Regions from separate parts of the Homo sapiens genome. Here all the other regions are reported to be linked to region 2. The links are microRNA targets in miRTarBase. Many come from high-throughput screens and were not tested one by one. Region 2 holds a microRNA gene; each other region holds the end of a gene's coding sequence.

Region 1 (3,548 bases), not on the chromosome of region 2:
GAAACCTCATCTCTACTAAAAATACAAAAATTAGTCAGGCGTGGTGGCACGCACCTGTAATCCCAGCTACTCAGGAGGCTGAGGCAGGAGAATCGCTTGAACCCGGGAGGCAGAGGTTGCAGTGAGCCAAGGTCACACCACTGCACACCAGCCTGGGTGACAGAGTGAGATTCCATCTCAAAAAAAACAAACAATATTTTATGATGTCCAGAAAAAAGCATTTTTTTAAAACTCCAACTAATTTTAAGTAATGTTTTCATTTTTCAGGATATAAGATACAAATGAATGCAAGAAAAACTATAATGTCATTTTAAAATCCTTTTTGTGATACTAGTTTTGGGGGCCTAAACTTAGAAACAATGTTTTCAGAAGAAGTAGTCAGTTGTATAAACATTGATTTGTGATTTTTTAAATGATATAGATATACTCTTTAGAATACCTGCATCAGGAATAAGAACTATTTCCTCATGGAAATCAAATGCATAAACTAAAATGGAAGGAACCTGAGTAAAGTTACCTCTATAAAAGCCATCTTGGTTATATTAAAAATATGAGCTTATATTTGTTAATGCTCTACCTTTTGTATATCTTTTTGTTTTCAGCCCACTTCGATGTGTTGTTCTTGTCGCACTTAGGGACATCAATCAAGGAGAAGAGCTTTTTTCAAACTACTACACAATTGTCAGCTAACTCTGTGAATCAGAAATTATTAGGTTTTCTACTCAGCTATTAATTCTAAGTGTTTTTTGTTAATCACTTCTCTGAGTTCTACCTGTAAAACAAATATTTTGAGACTTAATTGGAATAGGAATTTCTTATGTTTTTGTTGATATTATATTTATGTTCCAATTTCATGATAAAAGCTACTTGCTTCATTACAATTTCAAATTTGTAATGCAATTCCAAGTTTAATTGGTTTTCACCTAAATACACAATAGCTTATTAAATTAAAACCTACTCTTTGAACTTATAATTTCAATTTTTCTTTTGTTTATTTTGTAAGCTCTGTGGTGGTTTATAAAATTGTAGCCAGGCATCAGCAGTTCTTGTAGTACTGCTGATGTGTACAAACTTCTGTAAAAACTTTATTTTTACAGAATTGAGTAAAAAATACCTATTGTGTTGCCATGAGTAAATTGGTGTGTCTATGTATAATGTAAAGATTGCTCTAGCTGGCTGAGGGGAAAATGTGAGGTCATTATTACTATTTTCTTTACTCTTTGAACATTTTCACACCAAAGAAAAGGTGGAAAAAAAGTGCAAGATAGTGTTGGTGGGAGGAACACTTATTCCCCGTGTCTCATGTCTTCATGTGGAGGGCTTCCACTGGTTAATGTTCCTAGCCTCTCTCTCCACCCACTGGAGGGAGATTGACTCCCTGATTATGTTTGGAGAATAACTAGGCACCCATGTCCTATATACCCTTCTAGTTCCTTCCCTGTGGACTCTGGCTGCCAGCAGAAAGAATGTGTCCTGGCAGTTCTCTGCCTTGTGCAGAGAATAGCCTGTAGCCAGCCCAGCCAGTGACAGAGTGAGTCCAGAGGTGTAATATATTGGCAGGCCAACCTGGCTGCAGCCCTGAAGCTACCTTCCCGTTTTATTAGCAATAGTTACTTTGACCTCCATCGACCTGACTCCAGCTCTCTCAGTTCCAAACTTGGATAGGAAGGAGGGTGTTCTTTACTGGATCCCTCAAAAATTCATGGAACCTATATGACCAGATTCTGATTACCTTCACTTCCTTACCACCAGCTTTACTCACCTAGTTTATTGCAATTTCAGTAGCCTCTCAATTGCCTTCCTTGTTTCCACTCCTGTCCCCCTTACAGAACATATCACCAAGTGTGATTCTTTTAAATGAAAGTCAGGTATTGACATACGTCTGCTCAAAACCCTCTCCCTATCATGGAGTAAATGCTGAAGTCCTTCACATGCATAACCTGCTCATGACCTCAAGAGCTCCTCTCCTTTCTCCCCTTGCTCACTCCATCCCAACCCACACCTGCCTCCTGGCCACTCCCCAAACCTGCCAGGCACATTCCCAACCAAGGACTTTTGCACTTAGTTCTCTCTGCCTGTAAACATCTTCCCCCAGACAGCCACATAGCTTGTTCTCTCCCTTCCTGTCACCTCAGTGAGGAGCGTTGCCTCATCACCCCACTGAAATTTACAATCCCTCACTGCTCCCAACCCTGACATATTCCTCATTCTCTTTAGCACTTACCACCAGCAAGCTCAAAAAGCGTACCATAGATGGAAATTATGGCCAAAATGACTTCTAGTAACAGATGTACTAGATTATCCTGCTTCCACAGGCTTTTCCGTCTCCTAAAGCCTGAAAATACTCTGAGCTCTCACATGGCACATTGTTGCATTCTTGCTGTATTCGGAATATGTGTGCTTGTCCCTGCTCTGAAGGCACTTCTGTGCATGTGTCCACCACAGAGCCCTATGTGCTAAGGTCCTTTCGTGTCTGACAAGGAAGGGATGTGGTTTTAGTCAAGTAACCAAAGCAGAGGAGTCAAGATTTTTGCTTTCCTTTTATCCCCTTCTTGGCCTTGTACAAACTTTGGATATTATGGGCAAGCTGATCACTGCATCTTAAAAATGGAACTACATAAAGCTCTGGTCAGAGGAAATGAAATATGGGGACAAACTTGTGAAATAATGGCAAGATAGGAGCTTTAGCTTAAAAAGATGTTTAGGAAAGATAGATATGACTACGGTCAAACTATGAATCGTATGGATAAGGAAGACTAGTTGACCATAAATGTAGTCTGTCAAATAATAATAATATTTGACCAAATTTCAGATCTGTCTGTCTTCATAAAAGACAGTTACCTAGAACAGCGTTTGAAACATAATAAATGTTTCCTGAATTAAACTAAAAGTATAATCCTTACTTTGGGACTTCTTTTTTTTTTTTTTTTTGAGATGGAGTCTCAGTCTGTTGTCCAGGCTGGAGTGCAATGGCAGGATCTCAGCTCACTGCAACCACCACCCCCAGGGTTCAAGCAATTTTCCTGCCTCAGCCTCCTGAGTAGCTGGGGTTACAGGCATGCGCCACCTCGCTCGGCTGATTTTTGTATTTTTAGTAGAGACGGGGTTTCACTATGTTGGTCAGGCTGGTCTTGAACTCCTGACCTCATGATCTGCCCGCCTCGGCCTCTCAAAGTGTTGGGATTACAGGGGGACTTTTATTATAGATGGAAATTATAGAGGATTTAAGGAAAATATTTAATCTACCAACTTCACTATCTATCATATATCTTATTTACTGCATCTAAAACCAATTTAACAGTGGTATAATATCTATCTATTTGCTGTAGCTTAAGATTCATTAAATAAAATATCTGTATTTTTGGCAAATATTCACACAAACCAAGAAAAAAAGATTCCCAGATTTTTATTTCTGGAACTGTACACCAGGTATTAAAGTACAACAAATACAAAATAATGCTCAAAAAAATCAGTGTTTATGTACAAATATTAAAATCAATGCAATAGCAACTTCCTCTTGAACATCTGATACTGAAACTTGTTCTGAT
Region 2 (3,548 bases):
CAAGATCATGCTATTCCAGCCTGGGTGACAGAGTGAGACTACCTCTCAAAAAAAAAAAAAAGAAAAAGAAAAAGAAAAAGAAATGCATTTACAGAAGCTAGGAAAATCAAATTCAGGGAGGAGGCTGGAGGGCAAAGAGTGGGTGTGGCCAGACTTTAATCCATTCTCCATCTGTGGGGTGGTCCCTAGGGTATAAAAGAGCTCCAGGGCCCCTGCCCTGCCTTTCATCCTCAGGATGGGAAGTCCTCACAGAGTTCAGTAAGTATTGGCTTCCCATGGTGTTTCTGCACTTCCCCCGGGGTCATATGAGCCTCACATTTAGGTTGTAAGACTCCCCCTAAAATCTCCAACACTGAGTCCTCTCTATTTGTAGTCATGACTCCGACACCTTGATTCTCTGCCCCTAATACTCTTTTTTTTTTTTTGAGACGGAGTTTCACTCTTGTTGCCCAGGCTGCAGTGCAGTGGTGTGATCTTGGCTCACTGCAACCTCTGCCTCCCGGATTCAAGCAATTCTCCTGCCTCAGCCTCCCGAGTAGCTGGGATTACAGGCATGCACCACCATGCCCAGTTGATTGTTTTTGTATTTTTAGTAGAGGTGGGGTTTCACCATGTTGGCCAGGTCTCAGACTCCAAGCCTCGAGTCATCCGCCCTCTTCAGCCTCCCAAAGTGCTGGGTTTACAGGTGTGAGCCACCATTCCTGGACCGCATTATTGATTTTTTAAAATTTTTGGATTTTGTTCAATTAGTGATTGAGTCTCACTGTGTTGCCCAGATGGGCTTGTCTCCCAGGCTGGAGTGCAGTGGTGAGATCGTGACTCACAGTAGCCTCAACCTCCCTCACCCCAGCGTCCCGTGTAGTTGGGATGGCAGGCATACAGGACCATGCTTAGCTAATTTTTTTTTTTTTTTGTAGGGTTGGGGTCTCCCACCATTGTCTAGGCTGGTCATCAACACCTGGGCACAAACATCCTCTCACCCCGGCCTCTGAGCCACTGCACCCAGTAGGTTTTAGGTTCATTTTATTTTTTATTTAGGTGTCCACAAAGGCAGCTTTTTCCTTTTCTTTATTTTTTAAAGAGACAGGGTCTCACTCTGTTGCCCAGGGTGGAGTGCAGTGGCCAGATCTTGGCTCTCTGCAACCTCTGCCTTCCAGACTCAAGTGATCCACCTTCGTCTCCAGAGTAGCTGGGACTATAGGTGTGCACAAACACACCCAGCTGAGTTTTAAATCTTTTGTAGAGAAGGGGGCCTCAGTATGTTTCCCAGGCTGGTTTTGAAGTCCTGTGCTCAAGCAATCCTTCTGCCTTGGCTTCCCAAACTGCTAGGATTACAGGTGAGCCACCACACCGGGCCTGTCCACGTAATTTAAAAGGTGCTGGACGTGTGCGGTGGCTCACGTCTGTAATCCCAGCACTTTGGGAGGCTGAGGTGGGCGGATCACGAGGTCAGGAGTTCGAGACCAGCCTGGCCAATATGGTGAAACCCTGTCTCTACTAAAAATACAAAAATTAGCCAGGTGTGGTGGCAGGCGCCTGTAATCCCAGCTTCTCAGGAGGCTGAGGCAGGAGAATTGCTTGAACCCAGGAGGCGGAGGCTGCAGTGAGCTGATGATCGCTCCATGGCACTCCAGCCTGGGCAACAGAGCAAGACTAAGAAAAAAAAAGAAAGAAAAAGAAAAAGAAAACAAAGTAATGTAAAAGGTGTTATTCAGGCTGGGGACCCCCAAAGTGCTGGGATTACAGGCATGAGCCCCAGGGCAGGCCTAGGATTTGCATTACAAGGCTCTGCATTGTTCCTGAGAACTGGAGAGAGTGCTCAATCTACCTTTCGCTATTGAGCAACATTCAGAAGTCAGTTTTAAATCTCTTATCTTCTGCATAGAGGATGTGCCTGCAGTTTCCAGGTACTGGACAATACAGGGAGGGTACTTCTCAGTCTGTGGCACTCAGCCTTGAGGGCACTTTCTGGTGCCAGAATGAAAGTGCTGTCATAGCTGAGGTCCAATGACTGAGGCGAGCACCGAAGAAACACCATGGGGGGGAGGGGGGGCGGGGGGCTCCAGGAGCCACTGCAGGTAAAAGCTAAACCGTGGTGCTTGTTCTGCGCCATAAACTGGACTTCAGCCCAGCTTTAAGGAAATGACCACGGTCTCTGGGTTGTGAGGCTGGGTTCCGTAGCAGCTATAATGCTTGGATTCAGGGATAGCCTGGGTCACACCATTGCCAGAGAAGAGGCAACCAATCCAGACCCCAAAAGCGGGTTCTTGGATCTCTTGCTGGAAAGAATTTCGAGGCAAGTCACAACACAGCGAAAGAAGCAAGCTGAGGCCTGGGCTCAATCCTCCTGCTTCGTCCTCCCAAAGTGCTGGGATTACACGCATGATCCCCTGTGCCCTGCCAATATTTGGTAATTATAACTGGTGGTCAGCTTACAATGTGGCTATTTCCAGACCATAAGTACCAACTCTATAGGTGCCTTGTGAGTGAGTGCCTTGCTACTTCAAGCAGTTACTTTCGTGTGTTATTAAACCAGAGGCCTGCTAAGCCTCTGTGCCTAGTAAAGATTACAATTTGGAATGTCAGCCCCCAGCTGTCCTGTGTGATTGGCAGGTTAGGTCCTTGTTGAACCAGAAGCAACTGGCCAGTCGTACAGATGCAACTTTCGGACCAGTAGAAAATTTCTATGTCAACCTGGAGACATAGGGATTGTACCTTTCTGATACCCTATTAGTAAATAAATAGTATTTATTTATAAATTATGTATAATAGTATTTATCTGAATATATCCCAAGCAGCCCAAGTGTGTTCCAGACATAACATTTTTATTTACATTTAAATATCACTAAGATTAGAGATACACATCTAACTCAGGTTTTCAACTAGTCTTACCATTGAAAGAACTATTGTGGCAGGACGCAGTGGCGCACGCCTATTATCCTAGCACTTTGGGAGGCCGAGGAGGGCGGATCACAAGGCCAGGAGTTCGAGACCAGCCTGGCCAGCATGGTGAAACCCCATCTCTACTAAAAATACAAAAAAATTAGCTGGGCATGATGGCACAGGCTTGCAGTCCCAGCTACTCGGTAGGCTGAGGCAGGAGAACTGCTTGAACCCGGCAGACGGAGGTTGCAGTGAGCCGAGATCGCGCCACCGAACTCCAGTCTGGGCAACAGAGCAAGACGCTTGTCTTAAAAAAGAGAGAGAAAGAACTACTTGTTCTCTGTAAGCCATGCTGGTTTAGCCAAAATGCTGCAGTTGTGTATGGCCAGGGACGTTGAGGCTGCAGTGAGCCGACGGCTGTGTTGCCGCTCTGCAGTCTGGGGGACAGAGCAAGAACCTGTCTCAAAAAAACAAGAAGTTAGTGAGACAGACATGCCGTTCTGTTACTTTTCCCCTTGCTGGTTCAAAGCTAGGTAGTTGCCAATTAAATGTAATCTTGTAGAGCAAAAATGTTTTTCATTTTTTGAGACAGGATCTCACTCTATTGCCCAGCCTGGAGTGCAGTTGTGGGAACTCACAGCAACCTCCACCTCCTGGGTTTAGGC
Region 3 (3,000 bases), not on the chromosome of region 2:
CCAGTTCACTGACATGCAGCGGGTGGGCCAGCCCCAGCAGACTGTGCTCCAGCCCTGGCATGGGCTATGCACTTTCTTTTTCCAACTAGAATGTCAAGGATCTGCTCAGATCTTTTATGAAGCACCTTTATCCTTGGCTCCTAAGCACAATGAATCCCTGCCTCCTGTGCCTCCACTGTTCTTCCCTTCTAATTCTATGATGCCACCATGTAATATAGTGGTTTTCATGTTAGTCACTGAGCTTAAGGCGTCCATATGGTCTAGTGGGGTGAATAATATGTAATCTTATCTGTCAGCCTGTCATCCATCCATCCCTCCATCAACTTGGTTAGCATTTTGATACTGGTATGCCCAAGACTCCCTCTGATGCTAGTATTCGTGGATTCTGCATATTATCTAACTTCCGCGCAGAGACAAAAGTACACGTTACAGGCTAAGTACATGATACAGGCATCCAGAATCATTTATGTCTTGATGACTGCTAAATTTCCAGGGCTCAATAACTTAGTAGGTTTCAATAAATGTGTTGAATGAACAAATTAGTTAATTCCTAGAAATTGATGGAAGATTGACTTAGGTTATAGGTACAGTAAAAACAAATACCCCTGCCTCTAATTAAAAAAAATAAATTTACTTCTTCCAATTGCTACAGATAATTATCACTTATATATATTATGTACAATATTCTCTATTCCAAAATGTATTTCTGGAGAAACACAGATGAGCACACACTGGCAAGCATAGAGCAGTTAGGACCTAGCAGGAGTAGACCAGCAGTCCTGCAGGAATACAGCCCGAGCTTCTGTAGCCCGAGGCCCTTACTGCTATGACCCAGGCCACTCCCCTGTCTTGAGCAGGCCACACACCAGCAGCACCAGCTGGGTTGTTAATTGTTAACTTCCAGCTTTGCCACTTCCTTCCTTCTCCAATAGCTTCCAGTACTTGTCCTGATTTTTTCTTTTCATCTGCTTATGTTCATGACCCCATTTTCCCCTACATACCAATCTAACCACCCAAAGACATAAATAAGAGAATAACCTGGTGAAGTGATCTCCATTAGAACCAATACCACAAATATTTTCAAGTTTTCTTGAAAAAAAAAAAAAAAGACTATACTCTCAAGGATCATTTCTATAGTTTGTTACTAAAGAAGTTTCTCTGAATTTGTAGAGCACCGAAATTATTAAAAAAAAAAAATTAAATTCCCGGTAGGAGGAAAGTAGATACTAACTGTGATGTTACCCCTTGCTTATTTCTTTGAAATGAAATAAAACTGGCTTAAATGACAATACACACATCCATGTTTGCTTTAAAGTCTTTATTATCCCGAATATAAAAGACAGAGTCCTCTAGGATATAACAGAGTTCTTTACGTGGAAACATTATTTTTTTACAAGTGAAAAAATAAATACCTCTTGGAATAAAGGCTTATATGCTAATATGTGCCATAAAAAAGTAGAGTTTTAATATTTGACAAAATGTCTGTGCAAAGAAACAAATGCATAAACACATTACTGCTACATTAAGGCAATATGAAAAGTATACTCAGAAATCTCAGTAAAGTGACAGTGTAGGTTTCTAGCTTTACCTTAGCTAGTATTGCACCCGATAAGGTCATCTAGGTCTCCCGACATCCCAGAAAACCTGCTAGCTGACCAGCTTCCAAAATGCCCAAGTGGGAGTGGAAAACATGTTTAAGAAAACAGAAGCAAAAAGAACCAAAACCCCTTCGAAACATACAGAGGGGACAACCCAAAGTTAATACTTAAGCACTTACTTTAAAAAAACACAACAAAACTCCCCCCCCAAAAACAGAAAAGGACACCATATCTAAATACTTATGGTAAGGCTATAAAAGGCTTGAACAGTTCAAGCAAAGCAACACCAGTGGGTGAAGCTGGGATCGAGTGCTTGGGAGAAGTGATGAGTTAACTACCCTCAGTTGTACACCATGAGGCTCCATCTCTCACTCAGCAAGCTCCGCTTTCCCTTCCCAAGGAGAGTGCTCTCTGTTTTCAGTCTGAAATAAAATATTCCACCAGCTCAGAAGGCCCGGGGAGTACTTGACTACTCCACAGTAATCTTATAACAAGATTGGTAGTATTTTATAATCGAAAGGCTTGTGGGGTAGGGATAGGGGGAGCGTAAAGGAATAGGGAGCCACCCACATTGAGTGAGCTGCTTTTTACTAGCCACACTGGTTTAAATCTGACAACATTGTCAACTTTTTAAAAGTCACAGAATTGATTTGTAAACCTGTTTGCCTTCCAATCATTCTTGATCAAGTTATAAAGACAGAAATGACATTAAAACGACAACAATTTACAAAAGACTTTCCTATTAAAAATGGTTGGAGCTCCATGACCATACAAAAAGAATGAAATTCTTAAAAGTAATTCTTACAAAATCTGCTGCCAGTAGGAAACTTACCTCAGGATACATTAAGGAGACTTACAACATCATTTCCTAAAAGGTACCCAACTTTTTGGCTATGTTGCCACTTCACTGACATCAAAGACTTTACCTATTCCTTTACTAGATCATAAAAAAAATCAACATCCAAGGAATGTGTCTGCGTCCCAGAGCTCCTCCTGGTCCCATGACTGGAGTTGTTGATTCTACGCATGGATATGTTTTTGCAGTGAGGAGTAGCTGTGTTATTTTTCTTCCTTTTTTTTTTTTTTAACATCGCATGGCAGATGGGTGTTGGAATAATTACTTTCTCCACAATCTATCATTTTAATAGTTTATAATAGTGCAGTTCATGGAAACATGCCAAGTCCAACAAAAGCACAACAGATTAGATTACAGTCAGATTGAGAAGACTGGTGTGCGTTGGCAGATAGACGTGCTGGACATGCTCCACACGCGACCTGCAGACGGGACATGACTGGGAAAGAAAAGCCAACAGTCTCTGTTAGCATGCAAGCCTCGGTGGGGGGCCTGTGTCTCTGTGCACACCCCTGGTCTCTAGTGCATTTAATTTTCTAAATCAATTGT
Region 4 (3,000 bases), not on the chromosome of region 2:
TTTCATTTCTAGTCATTAGACCAGATCTACTGCACTGTTAATTAATGTTCCTGATTTATATAGGTTTGTAACTATTTTTTTCAAACAGTTGATACTTGGATGGCTATTGATGTTCTCTCTTCTTTTCACAGAGCATGTCCTTTGCAACCTGATCACACAAATGATGAAAAAGAATAGAACTTTCTCATTCATCTTTGAATAACGTCTCCTTGTTTACCCTGGTATTCTAGAATGTAAATTTACATAAATGTGTTTGTTCCAATTAGCTTTGTTGAACAGGCATTTAATTAAAAAATTTAGGTTTAAATTTAGATGTTCAAAAGTAGTTGTGAAATTTGAGAATTTGTAAGACTAATTATGGTAACTTAGCTTAGTATTCAATATAATGCATTGTTTGGTTTCTTTTACCAAATTAAGTGTCTAGTTCTTGCTAAAATCAAGTCATTGCATTGTGTTCTAATTACAAGTATGTTGTATTTGAGATTTGCTTAGATTGTTGTACTGCTGCCATTTTTATTGGTGTTTGATTATTGGAATGGTGCCATATTGTCACTCCTTCTACTTGCTTTAAAAAGCAGAGTTAGATTTTTGCACATTAAAAAATTCAGTATTAATTAAACATTACTTATTCTACCCTCTTTTTTGGCAAGGAGGACAAATACGCAATGTTGGAAAACCTTGGATGGATATCTTCTCTTTAAAAAAATGTAAAGATAATTTGGTCTTGAGGGTTTAAACGGTTGATAATGCCTCTACAACAACAAGAAAAAAGATAAAATACTAGGATAGAATCATGGTGGGCACAGTGGCTTCTCAGGAGGCTGAGGAGGGAGGTTTGCTTGAGTCCAGGAGTTGGAGACCAGCCCAGGCAACATAGCGTAAACCCTATCTCTAAAACAATTTTTAGCCGGGTGCGGTGGCTCACGCCTGTAATCCCAGCACTCTGGGAGGCCGAGGCGGGTGGATCATGAGGTCAGGAGATCGAGACCATCCTGCCTAACAAGGTGAAACCCCGTCTCTACTAAAAATACAAAAAATTAGCCGGGCGCGGTGGCGGGCGCCTGTAGTCCCAGCTACTCGGGAGGCTGAGGCAGGAGAATGGCGTGAACCCGGGAAGTGGAGCTTGCAGTGAGCCGAGATTGCGCCACTGCAGTCGGCAGTCCGGCTTGGGCGACAGAGCGAGACTCCGTCTCAAAAAAAAAAAAAAAAAAAATTTTAAAAAAGGCTGAGTGCAGTGGCTCACACCTGTAATCCCAGCACTTTGGGAGGCCAAGGCAGGTGGATCACCTGAGATAGGAGTTCAAGACCAGCCTGGCCAGCATGGTGAAACTGTCACTACTAAAAATGAAAAAATGAGCCAGGCATGGTGGCACATGCCTGTAATCCCAGCTACTCAGGAGGCTGAGGCAGGAGAATCGCTTGAACCTGGGAGGTGGAGGTTGCAGTGAGCCCAGATTGTGCCACTGCACTCCAGCCTGAACAACAGAGTGAGACAATGTCTTAAAAAAAAAAAAAGAAAGAAAAGAAAAAAATATATATTTATATATGAACAATAAAAAATTAGCCTGGCATGGTGGCACACACAGTGGAACCAGATCCCATCTCTTAAAAGAAATTTTCCTAGGATTTGCATTTGATTCGCTATCATAAAATATAATTTTAAAGTTGGAAGTCAATATAACATGAAAGGCAAATCATGCCATAAACCCATAGGCATGGCAAAACTCCTAAGAGCTACTATGACATTTTTCAACATAACCAGAGGTATAATTGAAGAAGTGGGTATAATATTCCTCATCACCCTTTTTGCAGCAGCCTGTTGTCAAAAGTAATCATATTTTAGTAGGCATATTTTTCTGAAATACGTTTGTAATAAATGCATACTTATTTTTACAATACACTATCCATTTGTGTGCTTCCTAAAATTATGTCCTATTTTATTCTTTCCAAATACAAATCAGAGCATTGACCTGATTTTAACACCTTCCAAACTGTTTGAGTCCGAATGATTGTAGATTATATTTTTTGCTTTGTCTTTTAGAGGTGGATATTATTAAACAGTATGTTATTGAATTGGGAGCTGAGTTCAAGTACTTATTTGATAATTAGGTTTATTTTTAAGGAGTAGTTTAAACAAAATATCTTGAAGTCAAGTTTTAATGGATCTGACACTTCATTTGCTATTTTTCTTTTCTTTTCTTTTTTAGATGGAGTCTCGCTCTGTCACCCAGGCCAGAGTGCAGTGGCTTGACCTTGGCTCACAACAACTTCTGCCTCCCAGGTTCAAGCGATTCTCCTAACTCAGACTCCGGAGTAGCTGGGACTACAGGTGCTCGCCACCACGCCCAGCTAATTTTTGCATTTTTAGTAGAGGCAGGGTTTCACCATGTTGACCAGGTTGGTCTCCAACTCCCAACTCCTGACCTCAGGTGATCCGCCTGACTGGGCCTCCCAAAGTGCTGGGAATTTTTTTTTTTTTTTTTTTTTTTGAGACAGTCTCACTCTGTTGCCCAGGCTGGAGTGCAGTGGCGCAATCTTGGCTCACTGCAAGCTCCACCTCCCAGGTTCACACCATTCTCCTGCCTCAGCCTCCCTAGTAGCTGGGACTACAGGTGCCTGCCACCATGCCCTGCTAATTGTTTTTGTATTTTTAGTAGAGATGGGGTTTCACCCTGTTAGCCAGGATGATCTTGATCTCCTGACCTCGTGATCTGCCCGCGTCGGCCTCCCAAAATGCTGGGATTACAGGTGTGAGTCACTGCAGCCGGCCAAGATTCAAATTTTTTAGAAACAATTACATGCCTACATTCAACTTCAGTCTGGGAGCAGTGGCTCACGCCTATAATCCCAGCACTTTGGGAGGCCGAGGCAGGTGAATCACCTGAGGTCAGGAGTTCGAGACCAGCCTGGCCAACATGGTGAAACCCTGACTCTACTAAAAGTGCAAAAAAAGACTGGGCATGGTGGCTCACGCCTGTAATCCTAGCACTTTGGGAGGCC
Region 5 (3,548 bases), not on the chromosome of region 2:
GACCAACGTGGTGAAACCCTGTCTCTACTAAAGATAAAAAAATTAGCTGGGCACGGTGGTGCCTGCCTGTAATCCCAGCTACTCAGGAGGCTGAGGCAGGAGAATCGCTTGAACCCGAGAGGTGGAGGTTGCAGTGAGCCCAGATCACGCCACTGCACTCCAGCCTGGATGACAGAGCAAGACTCCTTCTCAAAAAAACAAAACAAAACAAACAAAAAAGAGACTTCAGTAGAGGAATTACAGGCACATGCCACCACACCCAGCTAACTGTATGTTTAGTACAGATGTGGTTTCACCATGTTGGCCAGGCTGGTCTCAAACTCCTGACCTCAAGTGATCCATCTGCCTTGGCCTCCCAAAGTGCTAGGATTACAGGCGTGAGCCACTGCGCCTGGCCCATGGTAAAGTATTTTAAATTAAGGTATATACATTGCTTTTTAAAGACATAATGCTATTGCACATTTAATAGACTACAGAATAGTGTAAACAGAACTTTTATATGCACTGGGAAACCAAAATTCATGTGCCTCACTTCATTGCAATACTAGCTTTATGGTAGTGGTCTAGAACTGAACCCTCAGTATCTGAGGTATGCTTGTATTAATCTGCATTTACAGACAAATTAAGGCACAGAAATGATCTTACAGTCACTTCAGCTAGAGTGAAAATTCAGATAATGCCTCAGCCCATGCTTCTAACCAATCATACTGTGAGTGTAGCATGCTGGTATTCTCAGAACTATTTCCTTTATCCAGAACAGTGCTAAAATTTTTTTTTATGGTAAATGGTTTTAGGAAAGGCATTTAGGTAAAGCACAATCCTCCGTTTTACACCTTACTTTACATATTTACCATCCCTGCCAAACCACTCATTTTGACATGGAGCATTTCTATTACAGAGGGTGTAGTTGCATCTCACTTTATTTAAATATTTTCCTCTTTAGCCTTTGAAAGCTCCCACATTAACTGTATCTTCTCCAGTGAGTTGTAGTTCTCACACAGAACCATTACCCTTCCAGTCACTAGTGTATTTAAGCTCAAGTGAGTAAGACTAGTAATGATTAAAATGAACCTCACAATAAATTTTTAGCAAGGTAAGTTTAAGTCCCATCAATATTTTCAATAAATACTGGAAAGATGCTAAAGGCAGCTTCCTGCTGTAGTGTTTCTTGATGTATGGATCTTTGCTTTATTAATTTGTTAAATGAGAGCTGATGAAACTATTTTCCCCCAAATAACAGTCATAGAAACATGTTACCTATTTGAAAGAACAATACCATTAGTTAGTTAAAAAATTTAATTGTAAGGATCAAGCAGTGGTTATTGGTGAAACCAATACACACTGACAGCTTTGAAGTGTTCAGATGCTAATTTTAAAATAAATGTGACAAATACCAATCAGATGTTCATAACACTTTTCAGGATCCACATCAACTTGATTATGGACATAGTTCAATACACAAGGGTAAGAGAAAGAGTGTGTAATCACCAATAATTAAACCAGAGGCATAATTTTTTCAAATAATTTTTAGTTACAGAATAAATTCTAACTTTTTAAAGTCTAAAGCTACATAAAACTCAAAGCAATCTATTTTTCTACCTGAGGTCAAAATGACTTTCCTTTTTCCTAACTAAACATAATTCTTAGCATTGAGGTAAATCTGAATTCATGTGGTATGCTTTGTCAAACTTTTCCAAAAAATTTTAAGCCCTGCTTTAGAGAGAAATTCTCATGTTACACATATATATTTACATATTTTTTCTTCAAAGACTAATGACAATGTATGATGTTAATAGGCCTGTAATGGAACCATGATACTACTAATAATATGAAATAAAAAGCCACTCATTTATATAAAGTGTTCCTGAATGGTGCAATAAGAAATGGGATCACAGATTTATGTACATATATGAATCACTAAGAGTTCAGAAATTAAGCTCACTTTAAGAAAACTCAGCCAGGCACAGTGGCTCACGCCTGTAATCCCAGTACTTTGGGAGGCCAAGGCGGGTGGATCACGACGTCAGGAGTCCAAGACCAGCTTGACATGGTGAAACCCTGTCTCTACTAAAAATACAAAAATTAGCCGAGCGTGGTGACACACGCCTGTAATCCCAGCTACTCAGGAGGCAAGGCAGGAGAATTGCTTGAACCAGGGAGGCGGAGGTTGCAGTGAGCCCAGATCGCGCTATTGCACTCCAGCCTGGACAAGAGAGCGAGACTCTGACTCCAAAAAAAAAAAAAAGAAAGAAAACTCATTCTATTTTTCTCTTTGGAGCAGAGGTTGCAAAACTGTGATGCCTAACAAAAACGTTGTGTATAAAAGCTCCAAAACCAAGCATTAGCCTAAATTGGCTATAACTGCAACTTAAATCAAAAACTATATCCAACTAGATCTTCGTTGTGGCTATGCAACTTTTTGCTTTGTGGCCTGAAGGTTTTTACTGAGGTAACAACCTCTTATCTCTTGTCCTTCCCTCAACCACAAAAGCAAAAATAAACAACAACAAAAAACACCTCTACAGCTTCCTTCTTCATGGCTGTCTTTGGCAATGCTTCCAAATCTTGAAAGCAAAAGAACCTGCTGAAGTATATGAGGAGGATGAAAACACTAAACATGACATATGAAAACCAATCTAAGCGTATGAATTGAGAAAGAAAATACTAGAAGGAAGGCAGAGCAGCAGTCGGCCCTCAACAGAAAACAAAAAAGAAGGAGGGCTGTAACTGCTCTGGCCCTTCTTCCATATTATCTCCCAATTAGAAGAGCGTGGAACCGAAAACTTAAACTCTGAAAAGGTAATAACTTTCAAGGAGGAGCTACGGAAGTGAATAAATGATAAAGAAGAACAGCAGTAGCTTTAGCTGTCAATGAGTTTCTTTGCTCTGGCATTGGCAATATCAATACGATCTCTGTTGGTGTCAGCCTGAAAAACAAGAAAGATATCAGCTTTACAAGGTAAGTAACTCTAATAAAAATTAAACTTTTTACACTTGGAGTAACTGACACACCAAGAAAATCCAAGAAACCACGTGAAGTTACATTACAAAACTCATGTTGGGCAAGAAGTAACAGAATATGAAATTCATTTGGAAAACCCCTGGTATATAAACATGACAAAGGTGTAACATATAAGACCTTGCCAATATTTCATAAATTCTATAACGCATTTTTTCATAGTTTAACATGCCTGAAACTGGGATGCATCCTGTAATCAATGGCATTTTTTGATGCAATGAAATATGAAAGAGTGCTCTTCTCTGTTAAAGATCTGGACCTTGTGTGAGTCCTCTGAACTGAATCATAGAATCTCATCTGGATTCAGACACCCTAAGTCTAACCTGGAGAGACTGAAATAACCTTTCCAAAGATCTTTGAAACGAATCTATTACCATCCTCACCAACATCTGAATTAAAATGACAGGTAAATATAGCCTAAACCCAGACTGCAGCATTTAAAGCATCTTGTGAACCACTGTTTCAATTAAATCCATCAAAAGTGATTTAACAGAGAGCCAAGCTTAAAAACTCACCCTAAAGTTCACTG
Region 6 (3,548 bases), not on the chromosome of region 2:
TCTGACTCTTATTTTGGTTTTGTTTGCTTTCTGAAAGTTGTTACTGACCTGAAAGTGTAGCGTCGTGAACTGGGGAAGGAGAGAAGAGAGGCAGGATGAGAATCGTGGAGTGCGGAGGCAGGTAGCCCGTGGGGTGCCTCCTGTGCTCGGTGGAGCTGGAAGCCGCTTAGGTGCCAGAGCTTTTTCTGTGACCAAATTCTGGCTTTTGAAATAACCCAGTAACAGTTCTCTATCTTTTCATTCTGCCCGCTCCTCCCACAGCCTGGTCCCTCAGAGGAAAGGAAGGACAAGGAGTGCTTTGCAGCACGTGCCCCTGGCGGCGTCATGGTACTTTCCTGGCCCTGCTGCCCCTGCCCGTCCGTCTTTTATGATTTTTATTTACTCGTATTGGTTTTTTTAAATTTCTATTTTTTGCAGAACTGAGCCTTTTTCTGCCCTGCCTTTCTCCTGTTTGTCTTTCCTTTGTGGTTGATATTGTGTTGTCTTCTCCAAAGTATTTGTCATTAGAAACTTACAGCAAGCGTATACTTTTTAGCATGTCAGTATTTTTATTATGTTGCCCTCCTTGTCTTTGATAACTGCCTGTGGACGCTGTGTAAACTTTCTGGTAAAAATCCTTTTTTTTCCCCCTGTAGTCTCTCCATTTCAAGGACTAAAACAGTCTTGCGTTAAGTAAAAACCTGTGACCAGAGCTGAAGGAAGACTCTAGGACTGAAAACTGCAACAGAAATTAGCACAATTTGAAAACAAAACAAAATTGCAAAAGCCTTAGTTGCTTTTTCCACCTAAGAAGTTGATCAATGGAGAAAATGTCCACTGGAGTTTGAATAATGAACTTTGAGTTTGGGTGCAAGCAAATGACTCAGAGAAGGGTCCAGCTCTCAAGCTGAATGACAAACATGCTGTTGTAAATTTAGTCTCAGGTGTAAATACCCAAGCCCTCTGGTACCCAGGGAGCTGGCTGGTCTGTGGTGCATGTGTGTCCCTGTGATGGCAATCATTGTAGTTGCTGGCCTTCAGAAGAATTGAGGATCTGATGGAGGTTTTTTATGTATTTATTTTCTGTTCACCTTGTGACCCTGTGTCAAAATTTATAAAGATACAAAAGGCATTACTGAAATGGTACTTTCTGTAATTTGATACTATTTGGCTTAATCATCTTCACTTGACTATTTGTAATACTGTTGTAATGTTAACTCTGTTAAGTACCCAAGCTGCTTGTCTTCCACCAAAGAGTGCTTTATTAACAAGAATCTGTGAAAATCACATTTAAACACTGTTGCATGTTGTAAGACCAGGTGGTACCTTAGTAACCTAAAACTTGCAAGAGAATATTAATGGTAGCTTTAGAAGACTCAGGAGGAGAAACTGACTTCAGAGTTGGAAGATGTTGCAAGTCGTTCCTTTTTCTGTCCTTCAGGGACTGAAGAACTGGGAGGCTGCCCATTGTTTGGTTGCCAGTCATACAAATTAAAATCATATTTCCTTCCATGAATGGAAGAAACACACTATTGGTTTTTCCCCTTGGAAACAGCAATCCCAAATAATGTCGGCTTACAAAAAAAAAAAGTTACCACTTTTTTAGAGTCCTTCCCTGTAACATTGGATTTTTTTTTTCCCTTATGAGATCCACCTAAGGCCATTGACGTGGCCTGCGATCTCAGTGACAATGATCTGCTTCTGGATCTCACTGTTGCCTTTGGTTAGGGAACACAACTAGTAACTCTGCAGAGTGCCTTCTCCCGCAGCCCTACTGGAACACAGCAGAGTCTGTGCCATGAAGCAGTTACAGAAACAGAATTGATGTGCTGCTAAAAAAAAAAAAAAAAATGGGGCCCGAAATAAAAGAATATATAGTACTCACCTCAGTTCCTTCCATAAGAAGTGGGTGGTTTAATGATTGTTAAGCCATTTTTGCCTGTGCCGGGAGCATGGAGGGCTGAGATGTCGACAGGCAGTGGGAAACAAATGCCCTCCTAAGCCACAAGGCGTGCGCCAGATTAGTAGGCAACTCCATTTTAAGAAGCTGCCTTTTTCACAAAACTGGAAGAAATAAAAGCGGTTGGAATAAACAAGTTAAAAGTCTTTAATGCAAAAAGTAATTGAAAGGCAGTGCCTCCATTTTGGTGTACTTTCTTGGAAGAAAGTATAAAATTGACCGGCATCATGAGAGACGGAAGATGCCGTGTTCTCAGCCAAACAAGCAACTCTTTCCCCGCCAGGCACTGTCGGGTGGGGTCAGGCCAGCTTTTAAACACTGGGGACTGGATCACAGAAAAACAGTGGTTTTCTGTCCCTGGAAATGAATAGGCACAAAGACCCACTTGGCTGTGGGCAGACTACTCTTCAATAAGATTTGGGTGGGAGGAGGAACATTCCTTTTGCTATTTTGAGCTGAGACAATATAAATATTCAAACTGTGCCATGCATAAAGCATTGAATTCTCAGGGCACCTCTTCTTCCCCTTACCCCTTTTAAGGCCATCCCCTCCATTAATAATAATCCAGGTAGTTGTGAAAATCGTGCTTCTATCTGATCCCTTCTTAGTTTGGCTTTTCATCCCATCAGAACAAGTAAACGTAGGCGCCACAGCTCTTGTGAGTACTGTCTCCCTCACGGTGAATGAGCCTCCTGGTGTTTCGTCCAAGAAAAGAAAGGGTGTCACTGGAACCACAGCCCTTTTTCATTTTATAAACTGCCTCTTCATGTTGCCTGCTCAAGTTTCCACCTAGAATTGCTATCACTGTGGCTCTTTCTAAAAATCTTTCTATTTAACTGGTTCACTGAAATTAGTCATAGAAAACTTGTGATTTGGTGAAGAGGCATTCCTTGTAATAACCAAATGACTTGGGATGGTGTGCATAGCAAGGGCAGTGTTACACTTATGAGGACTGTCTCTAGCATCCAGGAAGTCTCTGGGTCTGAGGGATGGAAAGTTCTTCCTGCTATGAATGAGAGTGGACTCTTCCCCTCACCCCCAACTGAAACCACAAACAACCAGAATCTTCTGGAATTCTGACTTAGAGTCGTTGTTATAGAAGACCTTGTTGCTATGGAACATGAAACTGTGTGTCAGATGGAGAGATCCCCTTAACCTAAGAGCCTTAAATAGCCCTGAAAGTACACTGGGACGGTTTGCGATGGAATTAAAATTGGAAGTGAATATTTTTAGGTGCTCTTGAAGCTTTCTGGGGACTCAAAATTATCAAAAGTCAGGGACAGTCCGGAGGAAGAGCGTCTGCAAAACTGGGTTCCTAGAAGTATAGACGGACTTAGCTTTTTGTAGAATTTGGTGAGGAGCAGCGCCTCGTGAGAGCAGAATGGCCTGGCGTGGCCAGTGCTTCCCGGCAGCACGCAGCTCTGCGGCCTCCAGAATTCCCCTGTTCTGAGCTTGATGCCCCTAGCCTGTCCCCTACCTACTTCCTCCCCTCCTCTCTAGCCCTCTCACAGGGGTGATTGCTACCTCTCTGTTTTCTTGGGCCTAGGCAAGTTTTAGAGGAGTTCCCAAGCATTGTTATGAGGCCAGTGTGCTCGCTGGGCTGGGCGGG
Region 7 (3,545 bases), not on the chromosome of region 2:
TGTGAGGCTGAGGCAGGAGAATCGCTTGAACCTGGGAGGTGGAAGTTGTAATGAGCCAAGATTGCACCATTGCACTCCAGCCTGGGCAACAAGAGCGAAATTCCGTCTAAAAAAAAAAAAAGAAGAAATAAGATAAAAAATAAATTAGCCTGGCGTGATGGCACACACCTAGTGCTTGGCTGCTTGGGAAGCTGTGGTGCGAGGATCACCTGAGCCCAGGAATTCCAGGCTGCAGTGAGCTGATTGCGCCACTGTACTCCAGCCTGAGTGACAGTGAGACCCAAGAGCAGCAGCAGATTAGGCAACTTGGCAAAGCATTTCTTCTATACTGGTCCATCTTTGTCAAACACATGGCTTACTTATGAAGAAGACAGTATTAGAATTGAAATCAGTATTAAAATTAATTAAAAGACCAATCTTATAAATCAGAACCTAAAAACACTGGGACACAAACACAAATATTATCTTGAAATTTCTTCTTTATAACCACATTTTCCAAAGGAGGAAACATAAAATGTTCAGAGAAAAGGTTCAAATATCAGTTTAACAATGTGCTCTCTTTTCAGTATATACAGGTAAGTTTTTTTCTTTTCTTTTTTGAGATGGAGTTTCGCTCTTGTTGCCCAGTCTGGTGTGCAATGGCACCACTGGCTCACTGCAACTTCTGCCTCCCAGTTTCAAGCTATTCTCCTGCCTCAGCCTCCCAAGTAGCTGGGAATACAGGCATGTGCCACCACACCAGGCAAATTTTGTATTTTTAGTAGAGACTGGGTTGCTCCATGTTGGTTGGGCTGGTCTCGAACCCTCGACCTCAGGTGATCCGCCCACCTCGGCCTCCCAAAGTGCTGGGAATACAGCCATCAGCCACCGTGCCCAACCAGTTTTTTCTTTAATGATTGTATAGAGATAACAGTACTATAATAAATAAGTTAAATGTTAGAAACATCAACATAAACTAAACAAAGATAATTTCTGACCATCCATAACTTTTTCTAGTTGGCACTGTTTTGATTGCCCAAGAGTACTTAGTGGAAGGCTGCTTGCTGTTCCAACTAAAACAATATTTCAAGGATATGAAAAAGTGTGTAAATTGAGTTTCACTTAAATTATTTCACAATAAAAGTGATTCATAAAAGTTGATTAGTCCGGGCATGGTGGTTCACGCCTGTAATCCCAGCACTTTGGGAGGCAGAGGTGGGCAGATCCCTTGAGTCCAGGAGTTCTAGACCAGCCTGGGCAACGTGGTGAAACCATCTCTACAAATACAAAAAAATTAGCCAGGTGTGCTGGTGCATGCCTGTGGTCCCAGCTATTTGAGAGGGTGAGGTGGGAAGATCACCTAAGCCTGGGACTCGGAGGTTGCAGTGACAGTGAGCCGCGATCGTGCCACTGCACTCCAGCCTGGGTGACAGAGTGAAACCCTGTCTAAAAATAAAAATTTAAAAAAGAAAGAAAGAAAAAAAGGCTACGCACGGTGGCTCACGCCTGTAATCCCAGCACTTTGGGAGGCTGAGGCGGGCGGGTCACGAGGTCAGGAGTTCGAGACCAGCCTTACCAACATGGTGAAACCCCATCTCTACTAAAAATATAAAAATTAGTCGGGCGTGGTGGTGTGCACCTACAATCCCAGCTACTCAGGAGGCTGAAGCAGGACAATTGCTTGAACCTGGGAGGTGGAGGTTGCAGTGTGCCCAGATCGCACCATTGCACTCCAGCCTGGGCAACAGAGCAAGACTCCATCTGAAAAAAAAGTTGACCCTGGGAAAAAAAAAAAAATTGACCTGGCGTGGTGGCTCATGCCTGTAATCCCAGCACTTTGGGAAGCCAAGGTGGGTGAATCACCTGAGGTCAGGAGTTCGAGACCAGCCTGACCAACATGGTGAAACCCCATCTCCACTAAAAATACAAAATTAGCTGGGCGTGGTGGCACATGCCTGTAATTTCAGCTACTTGGGAGGCTGAGGCAGAAGAATTGCTTGAATCCGGGAGGGAGAGGTTGCAGTGAGCCAAGATTGTGCCACTGCACTCCGGCCTGGGCAACAAGAGTGAAACTCTGTCTCAAAAAAAAAAAAAAAAAGAAAAAAAAAGTTGATCTTCTCTCACCTTTTATCAGCTTAAAAAAAATCTAAAGGCTATTTATGTAACCCAGTTTGTCAATGGTTAGCTCTGTAATCTGAGGGCAAATACTTATCCTTAGATTTATCTCTGAAATAAATCACATAATTTGTAAAGTGACTTCCAACTCTAAAATTCCATGACTATTTGTATTTTACTAGGTACATGCTACTTGATTTCTTTGCATTGAAGCTATCTAAATCAGGAAGGATGCACAGCAAATAAAAATGCCTTAGTCCCACTGACGAGCAGAAAAGAAACACACACACATACATATTTTAGGAATATATATTTTTAAAAGGATTCAATAATCTTTTTAAAGCAAAATCAAAGTATGGCTACAGGAGGAGAGGAAATATCCAAATTGTAATCAATGCAGATTGTTTACTTAAGGCCTTATATTTGTACCTGTATAAATACCATATCACAGCACAAAAACATACCCCATCTGGCTCTCTTAAGGTACATGATAAATCAGACTAATGCACATTCATCAAAGTGGCATCATCTCAGGATATGTGCATATTTGACGTGGGTATGAATTCAGGGTTTCCTTGGGTCTCTTTCAAGGACTCTCCTTTCTCGTCGGTATTTCTATTTCCTTATTTTCCTTCTGTTTATGAAGAACTGTTATTTTTATATTTAATGCCCAATTTTCACTACTTGTTCATGTCAGTTCTCTGAAATGTTACTGCCTATGAACCGTGACATGTACTCTTTATAACAGAACCAGAAGTTAAAAGATGTAGACATCACACAAATCAATGATTATTTTAAAAATAGAAAACAATGATAAAAATTCAGTTGCCAACTTAGAGGATTTTATACATTATGAAGTGTTCTATTTTCCTTCCAGGGTCTGAAATTTATTTCTCAAGAAAACAGATTTTATTTCTAAGCCTTTACTATCTTTGCTAGAAACAGAAAAACCAGTTTTCTCTTTGACAAAATTGTCCCAGGAGAACAACACAAATGCTTTTTCCAAATTAGAGCATAAGTCTTCCTTAAATGTCCTAGTGTGACAATAAGGATACAACAGCCATCTTTTAAATGTCATGAAGGCTATTGTTAAGACGGTGTTTTTGGCCGTTTTGCAGATGGTCCATCGAAGTTAGTTCTGTTATCAATGTTATTTTCATCTTCTGCATCATCTTCATCATCACCTTTTAAAATAAATATTTGTTGTATGACAATACGTTCTATGGCTGAAAGAAATATATATAGCTAAAGTGGTTGATAATGAGACCATTTCACTTTAGGGATTAATAAAACCTGCACATTTTAGATTAAAATGATTTTGAGAATTTCAGTGTTTAAAATCTTTATTTTCTATCACTTTCCTCTTTGGAAATATTAGTTCATTCACCATAAAATCCACTCTTTTTTTCTTTTTTTTTGAGATAGTCTTGCTCTGTCGCCAGGCTGGAGTG

Evidence for each region. The annotated mature microRNA hsa-miR-512-5p reads CACUCAGCCUUGAGGGCACUUUC and lies in region 2 at 1,947-1,969, shown strand. An mRNA with a match to its seed (bases 2 to 7 or 8) in the 3' UTR can be bound and repressed. Matches are read on the target gene's strand: a 7mer-m8 pairs with bases 2 to 8, a 7mer-A1 pairs with bases 2 to 7 and ends in A, and an 8mer does both.
Region 1: miRTarBase lists SETD9 as a target of hsa-miR-512-5p. The part of its 3' UTR that is shown has no 7-base or 8-base seed match.
Region 3: miRTarBase lists MYLIP as a target of hsa-miR-512-5p. Seed matches in the 3' UTR shown: 7mer-m8 at 1,969-1,975 and 7mer-A1 at 1,543-1,549.
Region 4: the mRNA of PCLAF is a reported target of hsa-miR-512-5p. Seed matches in the 3' UTR shown: 7mer-m8 at 1,225-1,231.
Region 5: the mRNA of SNAP23 is a reported target of hsa-miR-512-5p. Seed matches in the 3' UTR shown: 7mer-A1 at 2,120-2,126 and 7mer-m8 at 1,952-1,958.
Region 6: the mRNA of CDC14B is a reported target of hsa-miR-512-5p. The part of its 3' UTR that is shown has no 7-base or 8-base seed match.
Region 7: the mRNA of GON7 is a reported target of hsa-miR-512-5p. The part of its 3' UTR that is shown has no 7-base or 8-base seed match.

Annotation. Positions count from the first base shown.
Region 1 is chr5:56,916,213-56,919,760 of GRCh38, forward strand. SETD9 (SET domain containing 9) reads left to right here. Exons shown (of 6, transcript NM_153706.4): 6 at 603-1,136. The coding sequence ends at 690. MIER3 (MIER family member 3) reads right to left here. Exons shown (of 13, transcript NM_001297599.2): 13 at 3,391-3,548. Among named protein-coding and RNA genes, the nearest start is that of SETD9, 8.4 kb to the left of the region's middle.
Region 2 is chr19:53,664,746-53,668,293 of GRCh38, forward strand. It overlaps MIR512-1 (microRNA 512-1), which reads left to right and starts at 1,934; the gene lies at 1,934-2,017. The region is part of intron 2 of LOC107985342 (a long non-coding RNA gene); the gene reads left to right. RefSeq lists enhancers at 1-857, 858-1,745, 1,746-2,634, 3,523-3,548.
Region 3 is chr6:16,146,552-16,149,551 of GRCh38, reverse strand. MYLIP (myosin regulatory light chain interacting protein) reads right to left here. Exons shown (of 7, transcript NM_013262.4): 7 at 1,304-2,890. The coding sequence ends at 2,801. It also overlaps the pseudogene LOC124901514. Among named protein-coding and RNA genes, the nearest start is that of MIR4639, 6.5 kb to the right of the region's middle.
Region 4 is chr15:64,363,207-64,366,206 of GRCh38, reverse strand. PCLAF (PCNA clamp associated factor) reads left to right here. Exons shown (of 4, transcript NM_014736.6): 4 at 132-1,903. The coding sequence ends at 177. Among named protein-coding and RNA genes, the nearest start is that of CSNK1G1, 8.5 kb to the right of the region's middle.
Region 5 is chr15:42,530,792-42,534,339 of GRCh38, reverse strand. SNAP23 (synaptosome associated protein 23) reads right to left here. Exons shown (of 8, transcript NM_003825.4): 8 at 1,282-2,927. The coding sequence ends at 2,862. It also overlaps a transcript of LRRC57 not described here. Among named protein-coding and RNA genes, the nearest start is that of LRRC57, 16 kb to the left of the region's middle.
Region 6 is chr9:96,500,877-96,504,424 of GRCh38, reverse strand. It overlaps CDC14B (cell division cycle 14B), which reads left to right. Exons shown (of 14, transcript NM_033331.4): 14 at 636-3,548. The coding sequence ends at 672. Among named protein-coding and RNA genes, the nearest start is that of HABP4, 52 kb to the right of the region's middle.
Region 7 is chr14:93,200,505-93,204,049 of GRCh38, forward strand. GON7 (GON7 subunit of KEOPS complex) reads right to left here. Exons shown (of 2, transcript NM_032490.5): 2 at 2,390-3,278. The coding sequence ends at 3,184. Among named protein-coding and RNA genes, the nearest start is that of GON7, 4.8 kb to the right of the region's middle.